Regions from separate parts of the Homo sapiens genome. Here region 1 is linked to region 2. The links come from fine-mapping of genetic effects on gene expression. A gene starts in region 2. The other region holds a variant in brackets. All regions are shown on one strand. Distances are from middle to middle.

Evidence for each region. PIP is the estimated chance that this variant, and not a neighbour inherited with it, causes the effect. A credible set is the group of variants that fine-mapping cannot tell apart.
Region 1: its variant is the best candidate, but not a certain one, in a credible set for the expression of KCNK17 in transverse colon (GTEx, PIP 0.53).

Annotation. Positions count from the first base shown.
Region 1 is chr6:39,332,401-39,347,087 of GRCh38, forward strand. KIF6 (kinesin family member 6) reads right to left here. Exons shown (of 23, transcript NM_145027.6): 20 at 14,076-14,126; 21 at 13,300-13,389; 22 at 11,309-11,415; 23 at 1-4,148. The coding sequence ends at 4,132. It overlaps LOC105375047 (a long non-coding RNA gene), which reads left to right. Exons shown (of 3, transcript XR_926774.3): 2 at 6,113-6,278; 3 at 10,239-10,301. Among named protein-coding and RNA genes, the nearest start is that of KCNK16, 17 kb to the left of the region's middle. RefSeq lists enhancers at 3,763-3,842, 7,119-7,620, 10,895-10,944, 10,927-11,764, 12,439-12,940. The variant A/G (reference allele first, on the strand shown) is at 7,855.
Region 2 is chr6:39,307,489-39,322,175 of GRCh38, forward strand. KCNK17 (potassium two pore domain channel subfamily K member 17) reads right to left here and starts at 6,931. Exons shown (of 5, transcript NM_031460.4): 1 at 6,596-6,931; 2 at 3,405-3,519. The coding sequence starts at 6,832. KCNK16 (potassium two pore domain channel subfamily K member 16) reads right to left here. Exons shown (of 5, transcript NM_001135106.2): 2 at 11,531-11,645; 3 at 10,298-10,464; 4 at 9,294-9,459; 5 at 8,683-8,954. The coding sequence ends at 8,731. It overlaps LOC105375047 (a long non-coding RNA gene), which reads left to right and starts at 6,468. Exons shown (of 3, transcript XR_926774.3): 1 at 6,468-6,736.

The DNA.
Region 1 (14,687 bases), 25 kb after region 2:
TTTTGAAGCTTTGTTTTGGGACTCATTGAAGTTACTTGGAAACTTACTGGAAACAATTTGACTCCTTTGGGGCTGGCTTTTTAAGCTTTGTTAGGTGGGACCAGAGCAATCTATCATCTAGGACTAATTTGGCCCCACTTCTGAGGCAGTACCTTATGTGTCTCTATACAATGACTGTTTTGGGAGGTTTCTCCACTCTGGCTGTTGGAAACATGAACTCTTCCCAACACAGTGTTATCTCAGGAAATTATTCCACCTGCTTCCTCCTGGTGGTTCTTTCCCCTGCCTTGGGTAATTTCTTCACATGCAGATGTTGATCGGTAGTTAGCTGAAGACTCAAGGGTAACCCTCTGAAGATCTCCAGAGCATGCTCTCTCTCTTTCTCTCTCTTTTTTCTCCTCTCTCTCTCCTTCTCTCTCTCTCATCCCTGGGACTCTGCCTTGCAAATTTAAGCCACTTTGTCCTCCCTGGATTCCCAGCTCCATTTCCTCAACTCAGGGAAACCACTGGGCTCTACCTGGTTCCCCCTTCCTGGGCTGCAGCCTGAAAACTCACTGCAGGCAGTAAGTTGGAGCAATCATAGGGCTCCCCTCACTTGTTTCCCTTCTCTTGCGGATCAATCATACCCTATATTGCTTGTTATCCAATGGCTGAAAACCATTGGTTTGTATAGAGGATTTTGTCTCATTTTTAGTCATTTAAAGCAGGAGGGTAAATCAGGTCCTTGTTGCTTCATCATGGCTGTAGGTGGTGGTCCTGCTTTTCCATATACAGGATGCTCTCAGTGCCTTTCCACAGGCTGCATGGAGAGACAATGAACTCTGCACTGAGAAATCCTAGATCCAGTCATATACTGTCTCTGGGTTCCAATTTCTGTGCCAGTCTGCTATTGCTACAATTAATGCTATATAACAAACCACTCTAAACCTCAGTGGTTTATGACAAGCAGCATATATTCTCATGCCAATAGGTCTTTGGGTGAGCCATAGTTCAGCTGATCTGGGCTGGGCTTGCCTGGGAGGCTCTGCTCCAGGCTGTAGACTGGGCTCAGGTCTGCTCTCTGGATGTTCCAGGCTGAAGGGGCAGCAGCTACCCATGGCATGTTCATCCCAAGAGAGATCACTGGAGCAAGAGGCAAGCTCAACCATGAGAGCACAATTCAAGCCTCTGCCTGGATCAGGTTTGCCAACACCACATTAGTCAAAGTGGGCCATGACAAAGCTTTGGATGTGTAATTCTATACTGGTGGTGAAGAATTAAAATGATGTATTCAGTATACCACAATTTCTCTATCTGCTTTCTAAAACTCCTTTTTAGCAAGATCTGGGCAAGCTACATTTTAACTTCCCTCCTCCAACCTCCGTCCACCCTACTTCTTGTCAAGGGATTGGTAGAGCCAGTTGAATTCTAGCAGGGACTGGGCTGGAGTCACTGGCTAGGCTGCTTTCCAGAAAATGTTTTTGAAAATCCCACATTTTGGCCTAGAGTGAACTCAGATACTTCTTGTCATCCGTGGCTCCACTGATCCCAGGTGGATTGCTGGAAAGTCTTTTCAAAACATTGCATCAATTTCTCCCATTTGCAGAGGCCAGTGAACTCTGGGAAGGTGCACTGCTGTCAAGCATGTGTCCATATCAAAGGCTGGGCTTCCATTAGGGGATGTTCGGAGCAAAAGGCCCCTTGGCCAGTTGCTGCACACACTTTGCATATGCTCTGGACACCAGTGGCCCCAGATCCCATGTTGTGTGTTTTTCTGTCTTCATTTCCTTTCCTGTCTTAGTGATTGCCCCAGGAGGCTGGTTCACACCCCGCATGGGGCCATGCCACACATCTCTGTCAGTAAGGCCTTTGGATCCAGGAGATGATGTCTCAGTGGGAGATCTAATGTTGAAAGACTCTGGCAGGGTATGTGGCTCATGCCTGCAATCCCAGCACTTTGGGAGGCCAAGGCGGGAGCATCGCTTAAGGCCAGGAATTTGAGACCATCCTGAGCCACACAGTGAGACCCTGTCTCTACAAAAAATTTAAAACGAGCTAGGTGTGGTGGTGCATGCCTGTAGTTCCAGCTACTTTGGAGGCTGAGGTGAGAGGATCGCTTGAGCCCAGGAGTTGGAGGCTGAGTATGGCTTGAGCCCAGGAGTTGGAGGCTGACTAGTGAGGTATGGTCGCACCACTGCACCCCAGCCTGGCTGACAGAGACCCCCCCCATCTCAAAAAATAAATAAAAGAAAGTAAAAATAAAAGAAAATAAAAGTTAGTAGACTCTACCCAGCTCTAGAGGGCTGAGGGCACTAAGGCATGCCAAGAATACTGCTGCTGCTACATAGGGGACTGGGGCAAATGCCATGCCATCTTCAGGGCTCTTGAGAGTGTGTGTGTGTATGTGTGTGTGTGTGTGCAGTTACATGTGTGTTCCATGGACTCTTGGGGAGGCTTCTAGAATCAGAATTTGGTCTTCCTCTGGTTCTACAGACTTTACAGAGGGCTTACTATGTTCCATTGAACTGTGAGGGCCAGGAGTGGACCAGAGATGCTGGCCCCTGTCCCGATGGGATTCAGTCAGAGCCTGGGGGAAGTCAGAGTGACACCAGCCTGAGAAACACATCTGGGTTCTGGCTCGTCTACTCATGAACTGAAGGACCGTTTACTGAACAGCGACTCTGTGCTTGGGACACAGCAATGAGCAAGACAAACAGGTCCCTGTTGCATTGGAGCTCTTAGTATTATGGGGGGTTGCAGGTATTTCAAAAATAGGCAAGTTCGGAAGGATAACATGTCAGATAGTGATGCAGAAAAAATGGTAATGGGATAGGGGATAACTAGGGGGTGACTCGAGATGGAGTGGTCAGGGGAAGCCCCCTGAAGAGGGGACATTTGTCAGTGGCATAGAACAGCAAGCTGAATCTCCCCTTCACTCTGGCCTTCTAATTATATAAAATAGGGGTGTGGATTAGAGGAGCTCGATGGGCCTGCCTAGCTTAGAAATGTAATGGTTTAATCTTCTCCTGCATGATCCTGTTACCCAGTCCTAAAAAACGAAAAAGAAAATCAAGCCAATTATACTATATTACCACTCTGCTCCCCTCCAGGGTCATCAGGTCCTGTATTTATAGGACAGAGACACCAGGAGCAGTGGACCAGCACTTTTATCCAGTTAGCTTCATTTCCAGGTGCCACTCCTGCTCACCCTCCGCTGCCCCTCCCTGGCTGCAGCTGGGTTGGAACCCCCTGGCCCAGGGGGCAGTTCTTCAAGAACCTCCTTGAGGGCTGCCCACCTTCCCTTGGATCTGTCATGGAGAGGGCCCATGGAGACAAGACCCCCAGGCAGCTATGTTTTTCCCTGTGGAAGTGGGGAGTGTCAGCCCAAATCCTCCCAAGTGGCTGGGTGAAGGTTGTGAGGCCCAAGGTACCCACACTGCCCTCTCTCAAGCTCTCAGCAGAGCCCCTGGGAGCTGCCCACTGTTCTCTGGGTGCTATGATGTCCTTAGACCCTGCAGGGCAGATGGCTCCCTGGAGACACAGCTGTTCAGGCACTGCCTCCAGGTCATCCTGGCCAAGAGGCTGATGGTGAAAGATGTGGTCTGGGAGATCAGGATTGGCCTTCAGGATGCCCTGCATTCCACTGCCTTGCCTGTGGCTGGGACATCCTGCCTGGACCTGTCATGGCCATTTCTGGGCTTCCAAACCAGAGCACGGGCCAAGGGAGAGAGCTGGCAAATCGTTAAAAATAAAAATATTCCCCCCACATTCCACTGGTGTGAGCATCCTCTGACATTATATTTTGATGGTGCTATTTCACATTCTCAAAAGCTTATAAAGATCTACACAAAACGTCACTACAACAGTGAGCTGAAGCCTTCACCCTGCCCCTAGCACTCTGGCCTTGCCTGGCCCTGCCAGCAGCTCCAGCAACCACAGGAAGGATGTTGTGGTCAGCCCCAGCCCCAGCCTCTCGGTGGCCTCCAGGTCAGCATCCTTAAAGAAACACAGTCCCCTCCATGGGAATCAAAGTCACTAGTTGCTCCCAGCAGCCCATAGTTCACTTCTGAAGCCAGAGCAAGTGAGGGGCGCTGCCTTCATCTGTGCTTCATTCTTGCTGGCATAATTCATGGATGGATATTTCCTGGAAATTCAATTGCTTCCCAAACCTGAAAGGGAGACAGGATGCTTTTGGTTAGGCTGTGCATGCAGACACTGACTTTTCCCAGGATTGAATCGGGGGGAGGGGAGGCCACCAGCCACTCCCCCTGGGTCTTGGGCACTGCATCTGTGTCTTGCCTCCCAGGAGCTGCATTTATACCCCAAGCTCTGAAGGAAGAGGCCCCCTTTGCCCTTTGCAGAAGCTCCATCTCCCTAGGCTGAGACTGACGCCTGTTTTCCTACCCCACCGTTTTCTTTCCTTTTCTTTCTTTCTTTTTTTTGATGGAGTCTCGCTCTGTCACCGAGGCTGGAGTCTTGTCTTTTCCTTCCTTCCTTTCTTCTGTCCTTCCTTCCCTTCCTTCCCTTTCTTCCCTTTCTTCCCTTTCTCTTCTTTCTTTCTTTTTCTTTCTCTTTCTTCTCTTTCATTCTTTCTCTCTTTCTCTCCCCTTCTTTCCTTCCTTTCTTCCCTCCCTCCCTCCCTTCCTTCCTTTCTTTTCCTTCCTTCCTTTTTCTTTCTTTCTTTCTTTCTCTTTCCTTTCTTTCCTTCTTTCCTTTCTTTCTTCTTTCTTCTCTTTCTTTCTTTCTTTCCTCCTTCCTTCCTTCCTTTCTCTTTCTTTTCTTTCTTTCCTTCCTTCTTTCTTTCTTTCTTTCTTTCTTTCTTTCTTTCTTTCTTTCTTTCTTTCTTTCTTTCTTTCTTTTTCTTTCTTTTCTTTCCCTCCCTCCCTCCAGCCTCCCCTCCCTTCCCCTCTTCCTTCCTTCCTTCCTTCTTTCTTTTTCTTTCTTTTCTTTCTGGACGGAGTCTTGCTCTGTTACCCAGGCTGGAGTGCAGTGGCACAATCTCGGCTCACTGCAACCTCTGCCTCCGGGGTTCAAGTGATTCTCCTGCCTCAGCCTCCCAAGTATCTGGAATTACAGGCACCCACCACCACGTCTGGCTAATTTTTGTATTTTTACTAGAGATGGGGTTTCACCATGTTGTCCAGGCTGGTCTCAAATTCCTGAGCTTAAGTGATCCTTCACCTCAGCCTCCCAAAGTGCTGGGATTACAGGTGTGAGCTACCACACCTGGACAACCCCATGGTTTTCATTGATGCTCCTACCTAATCCTCAGATTCTCTCCTTGCTTTTTCCTCCAGATATTAATTATATTCCAGGATGGCTCCTCCTGACCATGTGGCCCCTATCCTGTCATCTCCCATGGCTGGGCATGGAGAGGGTTCTCTGGATTGAGAACCAGGGCCCTTGCGTTCTAGCCAGGACAGTCCCCAACCCACGGTGTGACTTTGGGCAAGTCATGTCAGTTCTCTGGGCCTAACATTTCTCTTTGCTGGAGCAGATGAGATACCTGGAAAAAGCAAGGTGGCTTCTTGCTTCACAAAATGTGGTCCATGGACCAGCAGTGCTGGCATTTCCAGGGAGCTTGTTAAGAAAGGCAGAGTCTAAGACATGGTCCACCCTGGACTTACTGGATCAGAATCTACAGTTTGACAAAACCTGTCGATTCATTAGCACATTAAAATGTGAGAACTGGTAAGAGTGATATGCAGTTATTTTGCTTAAAGTTTGGCTAATTTAGTAAGAGCAAGAGAGAATTTCTGAGATTCTTGGATGAAGTAATAAATACAATGTTTAAAAAAATTTCAGTGGACAGAGAGCCTGAGGGGTGAGGCTGCTCAGGGAACAGGTGAGCAGGCAGCTGCAGCCCTCCAGGTTCGGCCACAGGAACCTGGTACTGGGTGACGAGTGTTAGCTTGGTTGGCTTGATATTGCTGTGGAAGAAAGGGTAATTCTTGGTGATACATTGAATGGCCAGCTAGTGCGGAGGAAGAGATTGGAAATAATTCACGGCTGTGAGCCCTTGGTCTTTCAGTTCTAATTCTGTGTGCAAGACCTCTGGCAGGCCTTGCTGTTTAATTAAACAAATATGGTCCTTATTTTTAAGACATTCTGATCTGTCTGAATTGAATTCTAGAACGGGAAGTAAGAAGACAAGTACACCGAGCCTATGATGGTCATGTGTTCCTGTCACTCTGGACTTGTGGTTCCCAGCTCTGCTACACAACGGAAATCTCTGGAGAATCTCTAGACATCCTGGTGCCCAGACCACAGCCCAGAACCATTCAGTCAGGATCACTGGGGTGGGTCCAGGTGATTCTGAGGCATGGCCATGGCTGAAACTCACTGCTTTTGTCTCTCTAGTACAAGGACTGGCAGGGCAAGAGCTGGGGGCCCGTGGGCACGTGGCTGCTGATGAGATCTGGGCTCTGATGTTTCTGCTGCACTGTTGAAATGCAGCCTGGGCCAGGATTGTGAACGCTGCCGGTGGTAGGGAGCATGGAGTCTGAGCCATCTCCCACCCAGGATGGTCTCTGAGCCCCTCACACACTTGCATGCAGTAATGACAGGGGGTGGGTGGGGTGGGGCCTGGGAAGAAATGCTACAGAATAGGGGGGAGAGCACGCTCTGCCCCAAGACATAGCTCCTTACATGCACAGACCTCAACACAAAAGGCACCATTTCAAACTCATTCACTTTATGGGCCCCAGTTAAGTGATGAAGCTCTGTCTGTATTGGGGTTTTGATTACCGTGGGCTCCCAGAAAGGAGGGCACACTACAGATGTACCATTAAGAAAAAGCAAAATCACACCTCATGGTGTTGGGCCAGCTCTCACCACAGAGGCCACTTCCCTGTTAATAATTCCTTGGTGCTTGGGAGTTGATAAGGGACTTTAATGGAGATTATCTGGGAAAGGATCAGAGCCTGGGCAAGGGTGGAATCTGTACATGACAGACAGTGAGAGGGAGGCTTGGGGAGGTGACCTGCCCAGTGTCACGCAGAGCAGAGATGGCCTTGGAATTTCCGCCTTTTCCCTCCCAGCTCGGGGCTCTTTCTCTTTCCCTGGGAGGGTTTCTGAACACAGAAGAGAGCTGGAGGGTTTCTCTGAGTGGGGCTGGAGGGCTGGGAGAGGCAGGACCTCTTCCTAACACCTCTTGGAGAAGACAGACTTGTGGTTATGGGGGTCGCACCATGGTTCCTTTCCAGATGGGAATACTTCCAAACTCAGGGATTAAGCAAGATTAAAAACAAAAAGGCCCTCTAGAAAGGGGTTAACCTCATTTCCTCAGACATAAAAACTGTCCTTGGCAGTTGGAAACAGCAGAGTTGACTCCACGGATGACTGATGCCCCTTACGGGTGTTATATACCTGTCCACGCCTGCCCCTGGCAGGGATTTAAACATTCCATGCTGTTCCATGAATCCTAAATCAAATAGATTCATCCTGGCCCTTGGTGAAGCCTAAGAGCTGGCGAGGCTTATGTTAAATTGCCCTCTCTGGGCTCCTGCTCCTGAGCTGACAGTCACAAATTCCCCTTAATGAGCACTCCTGAAGTAACCAAGGCAGCGCTGTGAGCTAAATTAAGATTCGAGAGCCCAGGCAGGGAGAGGGAGGTGTTTGCTTTGGCTGAGAAGGTGCCTGGGCCCCGGCCTGTGTGTTTGCCTGGGTGCCCTGATAAGTGGGCTGCATATTAAGTGCCACATGGTGGGACCAGAACCATCTGCTGTATGTCTGAGAGGTCACGCCTGCTGGCCCTTTGGGACCTGGTGGCAGAGGGACCCCGTGTCAACCTGTCTTTGGCTTCCTTTGTGGCCCCGTGGTCACTGAAAAGCCAGAATGAATATTCTTCCTTTCGGAATAAAAATTGAGCTGTGG[A/G]AGTTTTGTTTGCTTTGATGAATTACTTCCAGGCTGCTGTTTATTTGGAGAGCAAAGCTCCCCAGCTGCAGGGTGGGTAGAGGCTGCGGTCACTCCCCTCGTCAATGCTGGTTCCTGTTCCTGAGGCCGAGAGAACTCCTGACAGCAGAGTGGGCATATCTTGGTAGTTGCAGCTTTTCAAGACAGTGTGGCCCAGTGGGGAGAGAGCAGAAAACCTGGGTTATGCTGGCTCTGCCATTTATCAGCTGTGTAACCTTGGGCAAGTGATACAACCTCTGTGTGCCTCAGTTTCCTTTCCTCACCTGTCCACAGGGGATCATAATCTTGGCCCTGCATGCCTTACAGGAGCGTTAAGAGCATCAAATGAAACAATAAAAATGAAAACATTTATAAATGGTAGTTTGCCATACATATTTTAATAAAAGTGCCTGCCCTTCAATCCAGCTCTCTGCACTGCCTGGGGACAGTGTTAGCAGGAGGACACCACTCTGACAGGGACCTGGACTTCCGCCTCTTCTGTTTGGAGAGAGTTAGATGATCACATCTCTTATATGTACAAAAGCTTAGTGAATGTAACTTAAAGATATTGCTTGCTTGTAGGCTTCTTGAGGGGAGGAATGATGGTTGGTTTCTATGGATTTGTTACAGGGGAAGGGATATCTCAGCTCAAAGGATATCCTGCGTATCCAAGCCTTCCTCCACTTGTGCCCCACACACTGTCCCCTCTACTTTCTCAAGGAAGTTTTTCCTGCAGCTCTGCTCCCCTCTCCCACCACAGCATCAGTTTCCCTCTCTATGCATGTTTCAGCACGTGAGCATGTCTTAAAGCATCCCTCTGGGCTCCTGCTTCCCTTTAGCTCCAGCCCAGTTCTCTGCTCCTGTCACTGCTCAACCCCCTGGAGGGGTTGTATCTGCTCACTGCCTCAGCCTCTTTCCCTTCCACCCTCTCCCCAGCCACTCCCAGTCCCCTGGCTAAATGGTGCTTGTCCATGATCACCCTGACATGCAAAATGGCCAGTGGTCCACATTCCATCCTGCCACACTCTACTGGCCCGTCTCCCCTTGGAGCTTGTGCTTCTCCAGCTTGTGCTTCTCCAGCTTGTGCCTGAGGCCATACCCACTTATCTGCTGTTCCTTTTCGCACCCTGGCAGTGCCTTCTCAGCATCTCTGCTTCCTCTCTCTCCGCAACTGTTGGAGAACCCCAGGGGGCTGTTCTCAGCAATTTGAATACCTCCATCTCTGGTCTTCAGAGGACATTGTACTCAGTCCTGTGGCTTCAGACACCAACCAGACATGATGACTTGCATATTTCTTTTTCTAGCTTAGACTTTCTCTCTGAGCTCCACTGATGCTCACCTGTCTACTCGACACCTCCTCTTGGACATCAAATGTCATCTGAAACTTCAAAAAGGGCAGCCAGAACTCTCCATCCCTCCAGCTCCTTGCCTCTGATGGTCATGCCTCCCTGCCTTTCTCATTTCAGTAAATGGCACTGCCATTCTCTTCGCTGCTCAGATCAAAAGCCCAGGAGGTGCCCTGACTCTCCTCTTTCTCTTGCATCTCATATTTGGTCTACTGGTGAGTCCAAGCCACAATCATCCCTTGCTGGCACTTTCATGGTAGCCTGGTAACTGGTCTACCCTTGGCCCCTACAATCTACACTACATGTGACAGACAAAGTGAGCTTTTTAAAGCATCAATCACATCATATCACTCCATGGTTAAAATTATTCAGTGGGCTTCCACTCTATCCAGAATAAAATCCAAATCTCTTTCCCCTGTGCATAAGGCTGGTGTGACTTGGCCCTTGTGCTCTTGCTCCCTGCCCTCCAGCCACTCTAGCTTCCTTCCCACCCTGTGGCCAAGCAAAGCTTCCCCTTCAGGCTTCTCGCTTTCCGCTCTGTCTGCTAGGACTGTGCATTCCCAGAACGCGGCGTAGCTGCTCCATTCTCATGATGCAGCTGTCAGTTTAAAGTTATCTTCTCCAGCAAGGCCTCCCCAACCTACCCAGCTAAAAGCAGTCTTCCCAGTTACTGTCTACAACATTACATAGTTTAGCTATTTCATAGCACTTATTATCCCCTCAAACAATCTTACGTATTTGTCGACGTGTTCATTGTCTGTCTCCTTCCTCCCCCTAGAATGTCAGTTTCTCACGTGCTGGGTTCTGTCTTGTTCTCTGCTGTAGCACCAGCACTAGTAGTAGTGCCTGGCATAAGAAGGCACCCAACATATACAGTGTTTGCTGACTGATTGGCTGTTCATTGCTGTTCAGTGCCTGATACCTATCATCAGAGTATTTGGGGCATAGATGGGGACTTGGAGATCACTGAATCCAGTTTTTTATTTTTTTTTATTTTTTTTTATTTTTTTTTATTTTTAGACAAGGAAACTGAGAATGAGACAAGATCACAGCAGAGGTGGGGCTGTCTCAGGCTTAAGAAAGGACCTGACAGTGTTGCTGAGGCTGCTGGTCCTGGTGGTGAAGAGAGGATAGTAAATAAGCAGGCTGGCGGCCAAGCAAGGCGAGTACAGGACCAAGGCCGGCTCTCAGTTGCGGCGCTCCATCCATGCACAAACCTCTTCCTGCCCAAACTGCACACGGCTGGTGGAGAAGCTGAGTGCAGGCGCCACAGGGCAGGCATCAGTCATTATACATCGAATCTGCCAGCCCATACCATCACGGTGGGGGCGCCTTTCTGGCAATGTGAAGGCAATGTTAAGCCTGCCTAGTAGCCTTTGGGTTATGGGGAGGAGGCTAAGACAAAATGCAGGCCTGGGGTAAGGGGCCCTGGGGCTTGCCCTGTGGGTGTGTTGGGGATGGAAGGCAGAAAGAGAAAAGGCCCAGCCACAGCAGATGGGAGATGGGCAGCTGCCAAGAGGACGGGGCTGGGGGTGGAGGGGGCAGTGATGCAGACCAAGAAGAGCCTTCTTCTCTTCCTGTTGTCTGACACGCCACTCTTACTTCCTCTGTGATTGTTATGGTGTCCTCGGGCCTGGGCCTTCAAGCAGTGTTTACACTCACAGCTCTTTGGCAAGAACCACACTCTGATAGGGGAGTGAGACTTTAAGCCAGGGGTTCAACGAGTTACCAAAACATCACTCAGCCCCTTCCTGTTTGTAGAAGCCTGAGCAGAGGAGACAGCTGACTTTGGGAACAGAGAACAAAGGAGCTGAAGATCTGGAAGAGACAGAGAGCAAGCTCTGCCAAGAGGGACAGGAGCACCTGGGCCGCCCACCCACTTGGGCCTGTCTTGGTGTTTCTGATGCTGCCCCTTGAGGCTTTCTCGAGAAGGAATCAGAGGCTGGGCACATGTGACTGACAGGCAGGCCAGTCCTGTGGCTTCAGGAATATGCAGGAAACTCCCTACTCCCCTCCCACCTCACTGTGTGCTCCCCACAAGTGTTGGTGACCTGCTGCCCAGGAGGAGCCACCGAGGGAGGTGCACTTACATTGCTTCTGCAGAATGCTCTGTCTGGCCTTGATGAAGGCGATGATGTCCGAGTCCGTCTGGCTGTCTCCGGTGAGAGGGATGGACGACACTGGCCTCTTGGGGATGCTGGAGGCAACCACGTGTCACATTTTACTACACTTTACAACTGGACTCACCACTTATATTTCCAAAATGCTTTTCCATTTTAGGTGACTGATCTCACTCAGAAAGCTACATGACACGGCTGGCCTGCTTCTCACTCCCTCCTACCTTCTCTGTGTGGCAGCCACACTAAGCCTCTTGTCATGCAAATTGGGTCAAGTCATTCCCTGCCATAGACCCTGATATGGTTTGGCTGTGTCCTCACCCAAATCTCATCTTGAACTGTAGCTCCCATAATTTCCACGTGTTGTGGGAGGGACCAGGTGGGAGATAACTGAATCATGGGGACGGTTTCCTCCATACTGTTCTCGTGGTAGTGAATAAGTCTCATGAGATCTGATGTTTTCATACGAGGTTTCCCCTCTCACTTGGCTTTCATTCTGTCTTGGCTGCCACCATGTAAGACGTGCCTTTCACCATGATTGTGAGGCCTCCCCAGTGACATGAACTGTGAGTCCATTAAATCTCTTTTTCTTTATAAATTACCCAGTCTCAGGTATGTCTTTATCAGAAGTGTGAAAACAGACTAATACAGACCCTTTAGTGGCTTTTCACCACTCATGGAATAAAACTTAAACTCTGTCCCATGACCTACCAGGCTGTGTATGATATGACCCCGGGTCAGGGGCTCCAGCTGCCCCCTTTTCTTTCAGTGACTTGCATTTACCAAGCCACTTCCAGCCTCAGGGCCTTTGCTCTGATGCTTCCTCTCCCTGGACTGCCCTCCCCACCACCCGTCACATGGCGGCTGTGCTTTCTCTCGCTGCCTTCTCTATCCTCTTACCACCACCACTCTTGTCCTCCCATCCCTGATTTACCCAAACCAGCACCCCTTAACCTGGGGCCCATCAACTTCTGTGCCCAGCTTAGATGTCATATCATTCAGTGCTGTGTCCTCAGAGCACCCTCATTCCCCACGTGGCTTAGCTAGTTGACCTCAAGGCAGAGATTACTGTTCTCCTGTCTCTCCTTAAAAACAGAATCATATTTAGCTAAGTTGCCACAACTAAAAAAACTACCTTTCCCAGACTCCTTTGCTGCGATGTGTGGCCGGGTGACCAGGTGCTGGCCAATGAGATTTGTAAGTAGAAGTGTTGTGTGGGAATCTCCTTAGAAAGGGAGGGCTGTGTGTGCCCTCCCCCATCCCCTTTTCCATCCAGCTTCTCCATATAGCATTCCCCTTCAGCAAACTCAGAGCAGTACACTTGCCTGGCCTTGCCAACTTTCCGTCCATCCTCACCCCTGTGCCTCTGCACAGCAGGAGGTGGTAGCCACTTCCTTAGAAGGCAGTAAGGACGGTATGTAACAAGGGGCTGGCCATTCCCGCAGGTAGTTTGGGTGTTGGCTTTCCCGCTGCAGGCCAGCCGGAAGCACTAAAGCAGAGTCCAGGCAGGCAGGGCAGAGGCTGTGCTGGTGAAAGAGGCTGAGCAGCCATTCTAGCCGGAGGATACAAATGCCCATGGTGCTGATCAACTCTGGTAAGCCTGGAAGCAAATGCTGCTGGGTCTTCAGGCCAGGCTTGTCAGCTCCCTGCTCTGCTCTGTGGTGGGGCTGCCCTGGGCTGGCTCTTTCCCTTTCTGGCCCCCAGGTACGTCTATTCACAAGAAGATATGAAACAACTCTGCCCAACACAGGGCCCTGGTGACTGTGGGAGAAAACCTCCCCGCTTTGAGTTGGCCTGTGTGAGAGATTCCAGGGAATTCCCAGGGGACCAGGGCAGAGGCCAGACCTGGGTTCTGTCTGTGTGGCTACTGGACGAGGGGCTTTTTCGGGGAGTAGACTGGAGATGGAGGCCCACTCCGCCCACTGCAGGGGCTGTCACAGGCATAACAGGAGAAGACCACAGACCTGTCTTCCAGTGGGGTGCTGGTGCTGCTCTGTTTCTGGCTGTGTGGACTGGGGCAAGGCGAGGGCAGGATTTTCCTGGCATTCACATCACTGCAAAACACAAACAAACAAAAGCAAAAGGAATGGGGGCAAATTTATAGAAGGAAATTCAGGGTTTATATCTAGGAGCTGTTATGGACTGAATGTGTCCTCTCAAAATCCCTATGTGGACACCCTAATTCCCAGTGTGATGGCATTGGGCAGTGGGGCCTTTGGGAGGTGAATAGATTTAGATGAGGTCCTGAGGGTAGGGCCCCTGCACTGGGATTAGTGTCCTTATAGGTATAAGAGGAGGATGAGAAACTACAGTGCTCTCTCTCTCTCTCTCTCTCTCTCTCTCTCTCTCTCCCCCCCCTCTCCCTCCCCCCCTCCCTCTCCCTCTCCCTCCCTCTCCCTCTCTCTCTCTCTCTCTCTCTCTCTCTCTTTCTCTCCTATGTGAGCACACAATAAGAAGGAGGTGCCAGCAAGCGAGGAAGGAAGCCCTCAGCAGGAACTAAATCTGCTGTGCTACGGACTGGAGGTTTGTGTCCCTGAAAAGTCATGTGTTGAACCTAATCTCCAATGTAATGGTAGTAGAGGTGGGGCCTTTGGGTGGTGATTAAGTCATGAAGGTAGAACTCTCATGAATGGGATTAGAGTCCTTATAAAAGAGACATTGGAGAGCTCCCTTGCCCCTTCCACCATGTGAGGATGCGTCGAGAAGACAGCTGTCTATGAACCGGGAAGGGGGTCCTCACCAGACATCGAATCTGCCAGTGCCTTGATCTTGGACTTCCCAGCCTCCAGAACTGTGAAAAATAAACGTTTGTTGTTTGAGCCACTCAGTCTATAGTATTTTGTTATAGCAGCCTGAGCAGACTAAGACAAGAGCCAAGAGTCCTGTCTTGGATGGTTTACACAGTAATTTTCTTTTTTTCTTTTTTTTTGAGATGGAGTTTCACTCTTGTTGCCCAAGCTGGAGTGCAGTGGCATGATCTTGGCTCACTGCAACCTCCGCTTCCTGGGTTTGAGCAATCCTTCTGCCTCAGCCATCCAAGTAGCTGGGATTACAAGCATGCATCACAACACCTGGCTAATTTTTTGTATTTTTAGTAGAGATGGGGTTTCACCATATTGGCCAGGCTGGTCTTGAACTCCTGACCTCAGGTGATCCACCCACCTTGGCCTCCCAAAGTGCTGGGATTACAGGCGTGAGCCACTGTGCCCGGCCTACACAGTAATTTTCATTGTTAGAGCATGCATCTGTTGGCTGTAGCAGCTGAACAACAAACGATGGCCACAACTGTCATTGATAGACACGCCAGGCTTCGTGAAAGTGCTCTGCAAATATCATGCCATTTAATCCTCTC
Region 2 (14,687 bases):
TCCTGCCAAGTTCCATCATCTGGTACTGGTTTTTCTTCCCCATTCAGTTTTCACCAGCGGGATGGGGACACTAAGATTCCAGCTCTGAGAGGAGCCCCATGGAGGCCTGCAGCGTTCTCAGGCTGACATTAAATGGGTTTTTTTCCTCCCCACTATTCTCAGCCATCCCTCAGGTCAGCAAAAGGATGTCACCTACCTGTTGAACGCTGGGTAGCCACAGCCCCACCCAAGCCACCTTTCACTTCAGCATGTCTCCTCACTGCCACTTTGCATCTTGTTGGGATCTCTGGGCATCCTGCAAGAACCCTACAAGTCTATCTGTGATTGGTCTTCTCTGTACTTTCTCTGAATGCAGCTCCTGTTTCCAACCCTCTCCACCTACCTGGACCTCCTTACTGCTCCCCAAACACACAAGTCACATTCCCATCTCAGGGCCTTTGCACTTGCTGGCAGAGGATTCTCTCCTCAGATATCATCAGTTTGCTCCATTATTTTACTCATGTCTCTGCTTCAATGTTACTGTATCAGCTTCAATGTTACTGAATGGACACCCCACCTACAATAGGTGCCCCCATCACTATGAGACCCCTTTAACTAGCTTTACTTTTCTCTAAGCACACCCCACTACCTGATTATTGTCCATGTATCTGTTTAGTGTGTGTCCCCTCACACTAGAATGTCAGCTCCCCAAGGGCTGGGACTTGCTAATTTTGATTACCATTGTATCCTCAGCACCAGTGTCTGGCCCACACTAGGTACATATGTATGTGTACATACACACACCAAGGTATGTATGTGTGTATGTATGTACTTATCTTTTGAGGCAGAGTCTTGCTCTATTGCCTAGGCTGAAGTGCAGTGGCACAATCTCGGCTCACTGCAACCTCCGCCTCCCAGGCTCAAGCGATTCTCGTGCTTCTGCCTCCCAAATAGCTGGGATTACAGGCACCCGCCACCACGTCTGGCTAATTTTCATATTTTTAGAAGAGATGGGGTTTCATCATGTTGGCCCGGCTGGTCTCCAACTCCTGGCCTCATGTGATCCACCTGCCTCGGCCTCCCAAAATGCTGGGATTATAGGCAAGAGCCACCATGCCCAGCCTTCAATTTATTTGTTGAACAAATGGATGGATGAATGAAAGAACCAATGAGCAAGCCAGGAATGGAGTTCATAGATGAGTGATTTCTGGGCTCAGGCCTGTCCTACTGGCCCAGAGGTATTTGTGTTAGGGCTTGGAAAGTACTGCCCTTGCAGGGTGCTGGTCCCAGGGTAATGGGTTTGCCGAAGAGGCTGCCCTCTGCTGAGCCTCTCAGAATATCCCTTCTTCCCTTGTGGCATTCCAGATGTACCTCATCTTCCATCTCCCTCTCCTTCTCTCTCCAAATACCTCCCATGTGTAAGTGCATACAGGTGTGGTCAGCATCACAGAACCCTCACTCCCCTCCTGTTCACTCCACAATGGCTAGTCAACTCTGCTTCTCACTAGCCGTATGATCTGGGGGAGATGGTGCAACATCTCTGTGCCACCGTGTCCCCATCTGTGTCATGAAAATAGGCTGGACACAGTGGCTCACACCTGTAATCCCAGCACTTTGGGAGGCCAAGGCGGGTGGATCACTTGAGGACAGGAGTTTGAGGCCAGCCTGGCCAACATGGTAAAACCTGTCTCTACTGAAATACAAAAATTAGCCGGGCATGTTGGCAAGTGCCTGTAGTCCCAGCTACTTGGGAGGCTGAGGTAGGAGAATCGCTTGAACCTGGGAGGCGGAGGTTTCAGTGAGCTGAGATCATGCCACTGCACTCCAGCCTGGGTGACACAGCGAGACTCCGTCTCAAAAAAGAAAGAAAGAAAATAATAAGACCTATTCTTGGAGGTTGCCATAGGGACAAATTGAAATCTTAAATGTCAAAGTGCCCAGCACAGTGCCTAGTACAAGAAGACCTCGGGTGTTTCCTCAGGTGTACTGTGTGTGTGGGGTGGGGCAGGGCCCTCCTCTCTTTGCCCTCCTCACCCTCAAGCTGGTTGAAACTGAGTGGAGAGGAAAGGACAGAGGCATAATCCAAGCTAGGGGTGGTAGAGCTGGGAAGAGAGGTAGCAAAACTCTGAATTTGGTGGGCCAAAGTCACAGGCCCTGAGAAGAGTGTGGGAGGTGTGGGGTTTGCAGACTAAAGGACCCCCAAATCTGGGAGGCCTGGCCTACAGTGACTGTGTTTTAAGATCTCCTGCTACCCTGGAACTCAATACATGCCTGGTGAATGCATATTTAATGGAATTCCTTAACGTGGCAGTATTTATTGAGTGGCTGCTGTATGCTGGGCCTTGTAATAGACCCTTGGGGATGTAAAGATGAATCGGCCCATCCTGCCAGTCCTTCAGGGGCTCAGGGCCGCTGGAGTCTGAGATGCCTCCCAAGCATGCTTGTCTCAAGGATTGCCCAAGCTCCCATGTAGCTCTGAGGTCTGCTTTCAAGAAGTTCTGGCCAATTTAAAACTAGATGGAGAATCCTCTGGGTGCTCTTGCCTTACCCAACCCTGTGGGGAGGCTGGGATACTGGTGTCCTGGAGAGAGGATCCTGGCTGGCCAGGAACTGGGAGGCGGTAGCCCAAGTCACCAGTGATACCAGCCTGCCACCTGGTGGCAAGTCCTGTGTCATGCAGGAGTTGGGGCAGAAGGATCTGGGTGGCTCGACTTGCATGATTTCCTGGGTTTCAGAACTGCAGGGATCTAGCCTGCTCTTCTTTGCACAGCAGCCCCTCAGCACCCTCCTGAGACAAGCTCTACCTCAGCTCTTCCGCAGAGGAGGGTTAGTCCAGGTGTCCCTGTGTGTGGGGAGGATGGCGATGAGGAGTGGAGGGGGCTGTTTGCAAGCTGAAGAGAGGACTGTGGGAATGGGGTCTGGAGACAAGGACATGGGAGGAATGGCCACCTCCCCCAGGGCTGAGAAACGGGGGGTCTAAAGCTCTTTCTTTGGATTTCTACTTCTTCTTCCTTCCTAACTTTCCCTCCACTTCTCCCGACCACCACTCCCGGGGCTCAGTGTTGGGTGGGCTCAGCTGAGGAGACTGGCATCCTTGTAGTGCCCAGAGACATGTTTCTTGCTGTACTGGGAGACCTCTGCTTCCTGAAAGGCCATGTGGGGCAGAAGTCCCCTAGAGCAGTGCTTGTCAAACTCGAACAGTGCACATGAATCCCCTGGGGACCTGGGTGAGATGCTGAGGCTGAGTCAGCAGGTCTGTAGTGAGGCCCGAGACTGCTCCCAGGCGGTGTCCATGCTGCAGAGCTGAACTGCACTTGGAGTCATGAGACTCCAGGTAATCCCTCCAAAAGGCAACTAGCCTGTTGCCTCTCAGGGAGCTGCCTCCTTCCCCCACCCCCATCCCCCTGGCCCCATCTGGCCCTTACCAATGGTGGTGATGGTGGACACAGAAAAGAAGAAGGAGCCCACGAGCTCCCAGCGCCCCATGCTGGTGGTGTTGCTGAGGAGGCTGGCTCCGTTTTTGTATGCTTGGACGACATCCTGGGGAAGAGGCTGCAATGACCACCAGGCTCTGTGGGGTGATGGATTTCCTGTACCCCAAGATGCACACACACACACACACACACACACACACACACACACACACACACACAAACAAACCTACACACACAGCCCTCACAATTACTCTTCGATCCCAGCCCACCAGGGCAAGGAGGCTCTACCCCTCTCACCAAGGGCTCACCAGGTACAGCTACTGACAGCTACCATGGGGACAGCTCCTTCCCCACCCTTTACCCAGTGGCTAGGTCAGGTTGGAGTCCTAGTAAACCAGCGACTCATTTTCTCCCCTGCTCACTCCCATTCCTGCAACAAACACTAGGCCAGGCGTGATGTGTGGTGCTTTTAGGGGACGTGACCACAAGAGACATGACCCCAGCCCTCAGTGGTACATAGATAAACCTAATTAACTCTAATATGATGCAGTCAATGTCACTTTGGGCATTAAGGAGGAAGTGCAGCTACACAATCCTGGGCAAGGTGCTCAACTTCTCTCTGTGCCTCAGTTTCCTTACCTGTATAATGGTAATACAAATAGTACCTACTTCATAGAGTTGTTGTGTTAAATAAGGTATTATGTGTAGACTTAGTACCTGGCACATGGTGTTAGCAGTTGCTATATTGCCTATATGCATTATATAGGCATATAATGTTGTAGGACTCTGGGGAAGAAGGATGTTCATTCTCATTTGGGTAGGAGCAGAGGCCTCATGGAGAATGGGATGTTTTAGCTGGGCCTTTGAGGGTCAGGTAGGATTGCTTCTGGTGGAAGGATGTTTAGGTAGATGGGACAGCAGTGCAGAAGGTGGGAGGTGAGACTGCCTGGGACCTAGATTAGGGAGACTGGTAAGAAGTGATTGAGGCCAAGCTGTGCTTGGCTTTGCCATGCCAGGGATGAAGTCGCAGGTATCAGCCAAGGTCACTGAGCAAAGGGGAAGTAGGATCAGGTTTGTGTGCTCTGTGGCAGCTGGCAGTATAGAAAGGGTTGACCAGAGGGGAGAGACTCCTGCAGAAGTGAGTGATAGACGGGCCCTGGCCTGTCTCCTGGCACAGGTGGTCCAGGAGGAACAGAGAGGAGATATTCAGAAGCCCAGGCCTCTGGCCCTATTTAGTATGGGCAGTAAAGGAGATGTTGCAGAGGATTGTGAGGGTGTGTGGACATGGGGCAGACAATCGAGATTTAGGACAGGTGGAGAAGCAGGGCTGGGAGGAGGAGGACCACTTGCTCTTGGCCTTGAGGAATTTCAGAAGTTGCATGTCCACATCTGGTGCTCAGAAAGATCTGGGCTGGATACCACATCCTTATTCCTGGAGTTGGCTGAAGCCACAGGAGTGTTGAGGAAGGGGGTGAGGTGGGGGTGGAGGGAGTTGAAGGGAAAGCCCAAAGAGATGACAGCCTGGCTGGGAATCTTGGGAAGCACCCACATCCACAGGTCCACACTGAGGCAGTATTTATGCTGGTTAACAGCTCCAGCTCCTGGCTATGTAGCCATGCATTCGTATGTAACCTCTCTGAGCCTGTTTCTTCACCTCTGAAACAGGATGATAAAAACAGTACCCACCTGTGAGGGTGAAACAGGATGATAAAAACAGTACCCACCTGTGAGGGAGGTGAGACAAATGAATACGGGTAAAGTACCAGCAACAGTGCTTGGCACACGATAAGTGCTGCACAGAGGCATTTACTGTTATTATAATCACCATCATAGCCATCTCCCTGGGCCCAGGCTGCTTGTAGTCGAAGTTCACCACCTTTGCAAGGGTAATGGCAGGCAGCCTCAGCACCAGGACCCAGCAGTCGGGCTGTATTTGCAGAAGTCCGCAGGTGGGGAGCTGGAGGAATCACTTTAGGTCCTTAGTAGAGATAGGCCTGGCCCTGGCTACCTCCTGACCTCACCGAATCGGCCTAGTCCGAGGGTTCAGAACACCACTTCCGCTCCGCGCTGGGTCCCTTCCCACCCTGGCACGGTTCCCTGCCACCTTCCGGGGATTGGCTTTGGACTGGAGACTCTGGACGGATAAGCCACCAGGACTGCAAGACGGGGATTCTGGGCTGGCGCGCAGCTGTCTGGACTCTGGGCTCTTGGACGAAGGGGTGGGGAACCAAGCCAGGACCCAGGACATCAATGCCTCCGCCAAATCGAGCAGCTGCCAGTCTGGCGTCGCTTCAGTCCTAAGATGCGCCACCCCTAGAACCCTCCCCGGCCTCCTCCGCCCTGCTAGGCCCCACCCTTGAGGAGCCTCTGCTCAGATTTACCTCTGAGTCCTCCCCTGAACCCTGCCTTCAGCCTTTCTGGGCAGCCGCGCGGCGGCGGCGCGCCCAGTCCTTGTGTCCGAAGACTCGGAGTAAAGCGGGTTCAGCCAGAGAGCGGCCCTGCGTCCGCCCTCCTCTCGAACCCGGGTCTGCGCACGTCGAGCCCCCTCTCTGCGTTGAGGGTGGCCCCGACCAGCACGCCTCGGGCCCAATCCACCCACCCTCCGGGACAAACGCGCCTTCCCCCAGGCTCCTACGGCCGCGCCCTCGCTCCTGCGCATCCTTAGACCCGGCGCCCCTGCCGTCCCAGCTCCCAGTTCGCAAACGTGCGCCCGGGTTCCCCCTCTGGAAGCGGCCAGGTGTGGCGTTTAGCTCTTTGCCACGGGTGCGGGTGCGACCAACCCCCAAGCAGGCTCAAACGCGCCCTTTCCCGGGTCAGGCCGGGCGGGGCCGGTTACGCGCGCGCCCCCTGCCGTAGTCGTCCTCGCCCCCAAATTTGGATGTGTCCCCAGGCATCTGCCTCCTCACCGGGCCAGCATGCCCTCTCGCCCCCAAGTAGGACTCAGCCCGGCTTCTCGCAGTCCTCTCGCTAGGGCGAGGGTCTTTTCCTCCGAGGTCCCCCAACCCTCTGGTCCCCGCGCAGGAACGCCCACCCCCGTTGTGCCCGCGTCTGCGTTCCCGACGTTTCCCTGAACAGGAAACACCTGACCAGGGCCTGAATAGGCCCCCTCGCCCTCGGCCCGTACACCCCGCGGCCCGCTACCCCATCCCGCCGCGCCCAGGCCGACGCCGCTCGCCCCTGACCCGGATCAGCGAGTCCAGCGCCGGGCGGTCCAGACACGTGAAGTTCTGCAACAGCTCCCACTTGTCGCGCTGGAAGCTGCGGCTGGAGTCCTGCGCCGCGCGGCCCTCCAGCGTCCAGAACACGCCGGTGCCCAGCGCCAGGTAAGCCAGGTAGGCGAGCAGCAGGAGCACGGTGCTGGGCACCGCGCAGCCCCGGACCCTGCCCTCGGGAGCCGCCCGGGCTCGCGGTCGGTACATAGCGGGAGAGGCGGGGAGCCGGCGCCGGGAGCGGTGGACTAGGACCCGGTGGGAGGGAAGGGCCAGGCGTCCAGCTCGTATCTCCTCTCGCAAACGCCTGCTGGTGCCCGGTTTCGCCGGGGAGGAGGAGTGTTGGGGAATGGGACAGCCTGGCCCCACCCAGCCCTGGGATCCAATCCCCGGGACAAAAAGAGGCTCTGAACTGTGGGCATCTGGCCCCGCCTCAAATGTGTGCGGGGTGCCCACCTGCTAGGCCTAGGCCAGGGAGAAGGAGGAAGCTGCTGGGTGACCGCAGGCGCTGAGGGAAGGGGCCCAGAGCCCCCTCACATTTCCTGAAATGAACAATGGGAGGGACTTCTGGAAACCGCACTCAGAGGTAGGAGATAGTAGAGACCAACTTTATTGTCTTGGGGCCCCTGCCTAAGTTCTTGGACTCGGGGGCTATCTCCAAGGACTTGCTGTCTGTCAATCTCAAGACCACCTTGGGTCTCCCACACCTCTGTCCTTTCCTTTGTACCCCAAAAGAGGGACCCCAGCTGATTGCCACTTGTCCATGAGCTTGGGAGGTAAGAGGAGCCTTAACCAAGAGGCTTGTCCACTCCTTGCTTCTGAGAAGGCCCCCGAAATCCCTCTACCTGGAGTGGAGGAAGCGTCTAGGCTGTGTGAAGAGTCCGTGGGTCCTCAGCTTCCCAGTCCTTTCTTGGATATGGGGAAGTCCTGGGGTGTGACTTGGACTCCTCTTGCTGCTGTAGAGCCTCTCCTGGGTCTCCTGCCTGGAGCCGCCTTGGCTCCACAGCCTTGCCTCAGACCTGTGCAGAGGAACCCAGCCACATAGGAGCCCACTTGCTGTTGGATGATGGGAGAGGCAAAGGCCAAAATTTCCAGGCCCCGGGATGGAGTGGTCTAAATCTCTCCTGGTCAGGGATGTTGCAGTCTGGCAGGGGAAAGGCCAGACCTGGAGAATGCATTCCTGAGAGAGGCCAGACGTTCATGGAGCTCACTTTCTGGAAGGATCCTGGGATCTGCTGGCTCTCTGGCTTCCCATGGGGTGTTTGGAAAGGCTCTTGAGAAGGCAGGAGCCCAGAGGGAGTGATGAAGTTAAGGGGGTGGCCTGTGAGGGTCAGGGGAGGCCATGTTCAGGAAAGTGGGTAGGACACCCAAGAGGTCCTAAGCTTTGTTCACAGACAGCCCTGGACTTCTAGGCAAGGGGAGCTGGCGAGCTTTGAGAGGCAGCTCGCCTGCCCCTCGGCTGAGAGCTTCCTGAGGGCAGAGATCCTCTTTTCACTAAGATTGTTCCAAAGTCTCTGCCCAGGTCTCCCCTCTCTTTGATGCTCCCTGCCAGCCATTCCCATGGGCTCTCATCAACCCTGGGGCTATTCCCATCATAGCATTTTGGGCACTGTGTTGGGGCTGCCTCTTTGCTTGCCTAGCAACTAAAGGCACATCAAGGGCAGGCACTTCCACTGCTGTATCCCCAGACCCTGGCACAGACCCTGGCACAGCACCTGGCACATAGTAGGGGCTTGGCAAATGCACTGTGCACATATCAAATGAGGCAAAAGTAAAGTCATCCTTTGTTTGTGTAAGGTCTCCTGGAAGGGGGCATGGGGAGGGCAGTGGAGATCTGGCCACTACCTTTGGGTGGAAGGCTGTGGCAGGGGCTCTGGGACAAGGGTACACCTCCCCATCCACACATGTCTTTAATCCTATCTCACGTCTCCTCTCTGTTACTTTCTTGGATATACCTGTCTCCTTTCTCTCTTGGGAGAGCTCCTGAGACCAGCCCTGGCTGAGAAGTGAGGGGGTTGGGAGAGGAGAAAGCAGGGCTGGAAATCCAGAGAGCAGATAGGGTGGGACTGGGGAGGATGAAAGGGGTTTCTGGGCCCCCCCCGGGGGCCTCATGCAGAGATGGGGATCTTCTGAGGCCTGGGGAGCCCACTGGGGTCAGAGGCTGCCCCATCCTTGACGCCGAGGCCCCTACTGAGCAGCCAGAGCTGGCAGCATCTGTGCAGAAGCAGGGGGCCCAGTGGGAGGATCAGCGCCAGCCACGCCAGGCCCAGGAGGATCCAGATGGCTGCCAGGCTCCGATACACTGAGATATAATGCTTGCTGGGGTCTGTGCCTGCCAGGGAAGGGAATGGCATCAATGCCAGGGGTCTCAGGGCATAGCCACCTCCAGTTTCCATAGGGACCCTCACCAGCCAGGATGCTCTCTCCCTCTTCCTCATAACAAGGAACAGCAGTTGAGGTAGGTCTCTGCAGGGTGGTGATGGGTCCTAGACCAGAAACTTCTGAGAATGTTGCTTAGAATCCACAGTAGTCCCAGAAATCATTGGTTTGGCTCCCTTGAATGACCAAGGGCTATCTTATCCTCAATAGTTGTCCTCAGCTGACATCTCTCCATCCCCCAAATCCCAGTGGGCACCCCCACCCTGAGATAATGTGACTGTTTTGTTCTCACCAACAACATAGTCCCCAAAGCCAATGGTGCTGAGAGTGATGAAAGCAAAGTAGAAGCCCTCGCTGAAGCTCCAGCCCTCCACATGGCTGAAGACCATGGGTGGGAAGATGAGAATGACCAGCGTCCCCAGGGTCAGGAACAGAGCCAGGCCCAGGACTTGCAGTACCTAGGAGGGAGGGAGTTGGCCTCTGAGTCCACTTGAAAGTCTCCAGGATTGTATGAGGTTGGGGGGAGTCTGGGGTAAACATGGGAATGGGACTGGGCCATAGCTAGGACCCTTTCCTGCACTGCAGACCCTCGAGGTGGAGGTTGTATCTATGTGTGCATGACCTTGTCCCACCCAGGGAAAGATTTCGGCAGAGGGATTGCGTTAGTGGGTCAAGAAGCGATTTGGAGACCCCTTTGGACTTGGGGATCACACTTGAACAGGCTCCCTGGGGACTCAGATCTGGAACAGAAAAGTATCATTGAACTGTCTGCGTATTTCTGGCCTTGCAAGTGGCTGGCCAAGGGTGGGCACTGAGGGCATGCTGGGCAGCCTGCAGAGCTTGTTTGCTACTGCACAAAAGGATGTTGGAGTTCTGTGATGACCTTGAAGATGTGCTACAGAGATCCCTCACTTAAAGGAGGACGGTGGGCCAGCTGCCAGCTCCTTCAGGGTGTTCAGCTGCAGAGAACCTCCTGGCCTAGGGGCATACCCTTCCTGGGAAGGCCACACCCAGTGCCTGATTGAGGCAGGTATGAAAACCTGGCTGGTTCCGCCCACTGTGGGACAACTCTGACAGCTCTCACATGCTGTAGAGCTCCTTGGGGCCAAGCCTTTGTAGAGCATGCATAGAGATCCAACTCCCCACTCTGCCCAACCCTGCCTTCACCCTTCCTCTTTCACAGGCATCTACCCCTAACACCATGCATGCCAAACTCCATCTCAGCATCGGCTTCTGGGGAACTCCACTTGCAACAGATCTGTCACAGCAGGCCTGTAAGGGAGTTAGGGGGCATACCTGGGAGCGCCTGGGACGGTCCTCCCATCTTTCAATGGCGGCCAGATGGGCACGCAGCCCTGTGCCCAGGTGGTTGAGGAAGATCACGTTAAGCGGGATGCCCAACAGGGCATAGAAGACACAGAAGACCTGACCTGCCTCTGTGCTGGGTGCCAGGTTCCCATATCCTGCAAGGGAAGGGGGGCGTGTGCAAATATGGAGACTCTAGAACGCCCTCTGCTCCTCTTCCCCAGACTCTAGCTGAGGTTTGTCTGTCACCACCTCTGGGGGTGAGAAGGGGAAGCTCCCCTGTTCCCATGAACTCTGCTGGAATGATTTTTATTTATAGGACTCCTGCTCATCTTTGAAGGCCCATCTCAAATGACTCTGCCTCCATGAAGCCCTCCTGACTGCCGATTTCCTTCTCCCTTCTGGGTGTGGTTCCCCATAGTGTTTTATGTCATTGCTATGTAATTATCGACTTTGTTTTCTATTACTTTTTTTTGTGTATTTATCATGTTCCTCTTTGTTGGACTGGAAGTTCCTTGCAGGCTGAGCCTGGGTCTGATCCAAGTTTGTATCTCTCACCCCCAACTCCATCACTCTGCCTGGAATGTCACCTGAGTTCAAGGAAAGTATGTGGAATTGGACTTAACTGAATGGATGGGGTAGACCTGGATCTGATGGTTTCCTTGGGGTGGGATGGAGTGAGTTTTCTGGCCGAGGGGGTGTAGCAGCTGCTGTCAGTGCCCTGTTCCCTCAGAACACATGAGATACCACCTGAAGCTTTGGTGGACAGTTCCTGTATACAAATCAACCCCCGCTCCCAGTTTCTGCACATCTCTCTCTACCTGAGAGATTCTTCTGGCCAAAGGAGTATGCTTGGTCTATGGGAAGTTTCAAAATGCTGGGGAACTAATATACTCGGGACCAGCTCTCAACCTTTGAGGGCAGGAGTTGGTAGCTAAATGGCCCCTCATTCTTGTCCCTCGCTGGACCGTTCTGAGGAAGGGCTCTATCTAGCCTCTCAGAGGGTCCCAAGGAGAAGTGAGCTCAGTCACCCAAGCCAGTAATCTGCTAATTAATGCAAATTTCATTGCCACCTTCTCCCTACTGTTTCACTTACCCACTCCCTCCCTGGGCTTCCTGAATAATCTCCTAGACAAACCACATCCTTGTCTCAGCATCTGCTTTTGGGGAGCCCAAACTAAGACAGGGGCCTTGGGGAAGCTCTTCTCTACCCCAGCCCTTTACCTATGGTAGTGACGACTGTGCCTGCAAAGAAGAAACTGCTGCCAAAGTCCCAGTTGCTGGGGTTGGTAGAGTTGCCTTTGGGGTTCACACCTTTCACCCAGGCTTCCATGATGACCTGTAGGGGGTGGCATGGCAGGGGAGGAAGAAGGAGCTGATGGTTACTGGGCACCAGTTGTTGCCATGCTTTTGGCAGCATGCTTTTGTGTCATCTCATCTAATGATACTCTTAGATGATATTGTTCCCATTTCATGGAAAAAGGAAATGAAGACTCAGAGTGGCTAAGTGACCTGTGCAAGGTGACTGGACTCCAACTCCAGTGTCTGTTCCACTGTCTGTTCCACTGGCCAGGGCTGACTGAGGTGTGGGCTGCAAGCATGGGCTGGGGCGGGAGATGGGCCTGAGGGGTGAGGTGGAGGATGCTCAGGGAGGGGTCCCGTGGGAGATGCTGCTGGTGGCCAAAAGGATGGCACCCACATCAGCTGTTAGAACAATGGGAGGATTTCAGGTTGGGTATGTCTGGAAGGGATTGCTGGGGAACACAGGGTTTAGGGACCACAGGGAAGCCATGGGCTGCCTGCTATGAAGCTAATGGTGGGAAAGAGAGCCCTGTGTTCCCTAAGTGTCCAGGCGAGTGGGCACCCTTGCTCTTTGCTGCTCTCTAGTGAGCCTCAGCCCTTGCCTATGGGAGAAATTCTAACAGAGGCCAAGACAAAGGTGGCACGTGTGAGTGTGTGTGTGTGTGTGTGTGTGTGTGTGGTGGTTGTTTATATGTGATGTGTTGTATGCACGTGTTGTGCATGGCAACTGTATGTTGCACATGTGTGCATGTTTGTATGTGTGTTGCATGTGTTTTCACAAGACCCGAACCTTTGCCGGCTCAAGCCTACAACACCTCCCTTCGCTGCCCCACTGCTGACAACCTCCAGTCCCTGGGCCCAGCCGCCTTGGAGAATAGGCAGGGCTCTCTCCTCCCCTGCCCCAACCCTCTCCTCTTTAATTGTGGACTGTCTCAGAGCAGCAGCACAGCCTTGCCACCGAAGAGCCCCAAAGGCAGGAGGAAGCCAGGGACACAACAGTTCTGGCTTCCAATTCCTATGGGAACCAGTTCCCGCTGGCTGGGTGGGTGTGCTTAGATCAGGGCTGGGGTGGCCCTGGTGGGCCAAGCCAGTCAGGGCATCTGCGGTCACAGGCTGTCTGCTTCTCCTCACTTTGACGGGAACTGGCCTCTTAAGATGTGGACTTTGGCCTCCCTTTCTTTCCCACATCCACAAAGTGGCCAGGGCCCAACATTCCCGAACATGCTCGTTCTCTGGAGACCCTCACTTCTGGGGGCAGTACTCTAGTCCTGGGCCATCCCCCACTGCCAGCCTGCAGCCCTCATCCTGCTGAGGGTGCTGAGTGCCGGTGGGCGGATGCAGGTGGCCATGGGTTCTGACTTCCCAGTTTTGTGAACCTGGGCAAGCAGTGTTTCGTCACAGAGGCAATGTTTAATACTGCTTTTAATACTAGTTACTCAACTCGCCCTGTGCGTCTGAGAGTTCAACAGGAATGTGTCTTCTTCCAGAATCTCACCCCAGTGTTCTTCTGCCACCCAGCTCAACTGCCCCTGGCAAGGAAGGGTCTCTCCTGAGGCTGAGGACTCTCAGGGAAAGGGATGTCCTGTCTTCCCTGGGGAGGCCCCAGGGGCTAATCAGTGGCAATCCCTTCGGGGCTGCAATCAAGCGGATGGCCTCCTTTCGTCTTGGTTAGCAGAGCGAGTTAGGTTGCAGCTACCAACCCTTCCCACGCCCTCCAGCTTGGCTCTCACCTCCAATGCAGAGCTGAGGGAGGAGATTTCAGCTTCTCCAGGGCCTCTGCCTTACTCCCAGGGTTTTGGGAGGCCCCTGAACTGTTCTCAACCCTGATGTGGTACTATGGTCCCCCAACTTTGACTAACCTTATCCATCAGGGAGAAGAGAGTAAAACCTGAAGCTGGAGGCCTCACTTCCTGGTCTCTCACAGCTACAGAATGTTGTCTGTGACCACCCAGCCCACGCATCATCTTCTAGGCCAGCTGTTCTCAGTCTTCAGGGTCCTCAACATCACCTGGAGAGCCTGTTGACACACAGCCTGCAGGACCCATCCCTAGAGTTCCTGAGTCGGCAGGTGCGGAGTGGGGCTTGACATCTCCAGTTCTAACAGGCTCCCAGGTGATGCTGATTCTGGTCCCGGGACTACACTTTGAGAACTGCTGCTTCAGGTTGCATCCTGCCCCCAGCACTTATGCTAATTTGTGTGGTGAAGACCCGGGGCTCCAGAGCCAGAGGCCTGGGAGTGAATGCTGTCTCTACCAGTAGCTGTGCAGCCTTGGTCAACATATTCTACCTCAGTTCCCATCTACAAAGTGGAGATAGGGATTGTAATAGGTAATTATGAGAAAACACCTGTAACACGCTCAGTGTCAGGTGATGAGTGGATCATGATTGGATTAAGCTGGTCATGACCACCCTGCTTCCCACTGTTTTAGGCACATTGTGAATGCTCAGTAAATGCCAGTTATCAAGGTGATTTGGCACTTGGTCTGTTCCTTTGCAGGGGATGTTGTCACTCGCTCCAGTGCCTATTTCAGATGCATTCACCTCCCTCCACAACACCTGGTTTTGTCTTGTTTCTGGGAAAGAGGAAACCAGAAAGGACCCAGGCAGGGGGTGACCCACTCTGTTACCAAGAGAGAGCCCCATTTGGGTGCAGTGCTGGCAAGCTCAGTCACCTTGGCCATTGCCCACCAAACCCAACTCCAGGTGCAAACAGGCCAGGAAAGGACAGCTTGGTGGTGGCTGCTCCTGGCATTTATCTGTGTCTCCCACCCGCAGCCGTCTGCCCAGGGATATGAGCTGGGAGAGGGCAGAAGGAGCTGCAGCCCTGGAGTTGGGGAAGGGGAAGTATGAAAGTGTGGGAGGAGGAAATTTGGATAGCGTTGATAACGCTGACATATAGTTCCCATTCATCCAGCAAGTGACAGCTTAGAGAGTGCTTTTAATCTGCTGTCAAATGTCTGCAGTACCGATATGGTTATTCTTGTTGCCTTATAGATGAGGCTGTTTGGGTCCAGAGAGGTTAAGTGACCTGTTCAAGGTCACACATCAATCCAGTTGTAGACCTGGGGCCAGAATCCAG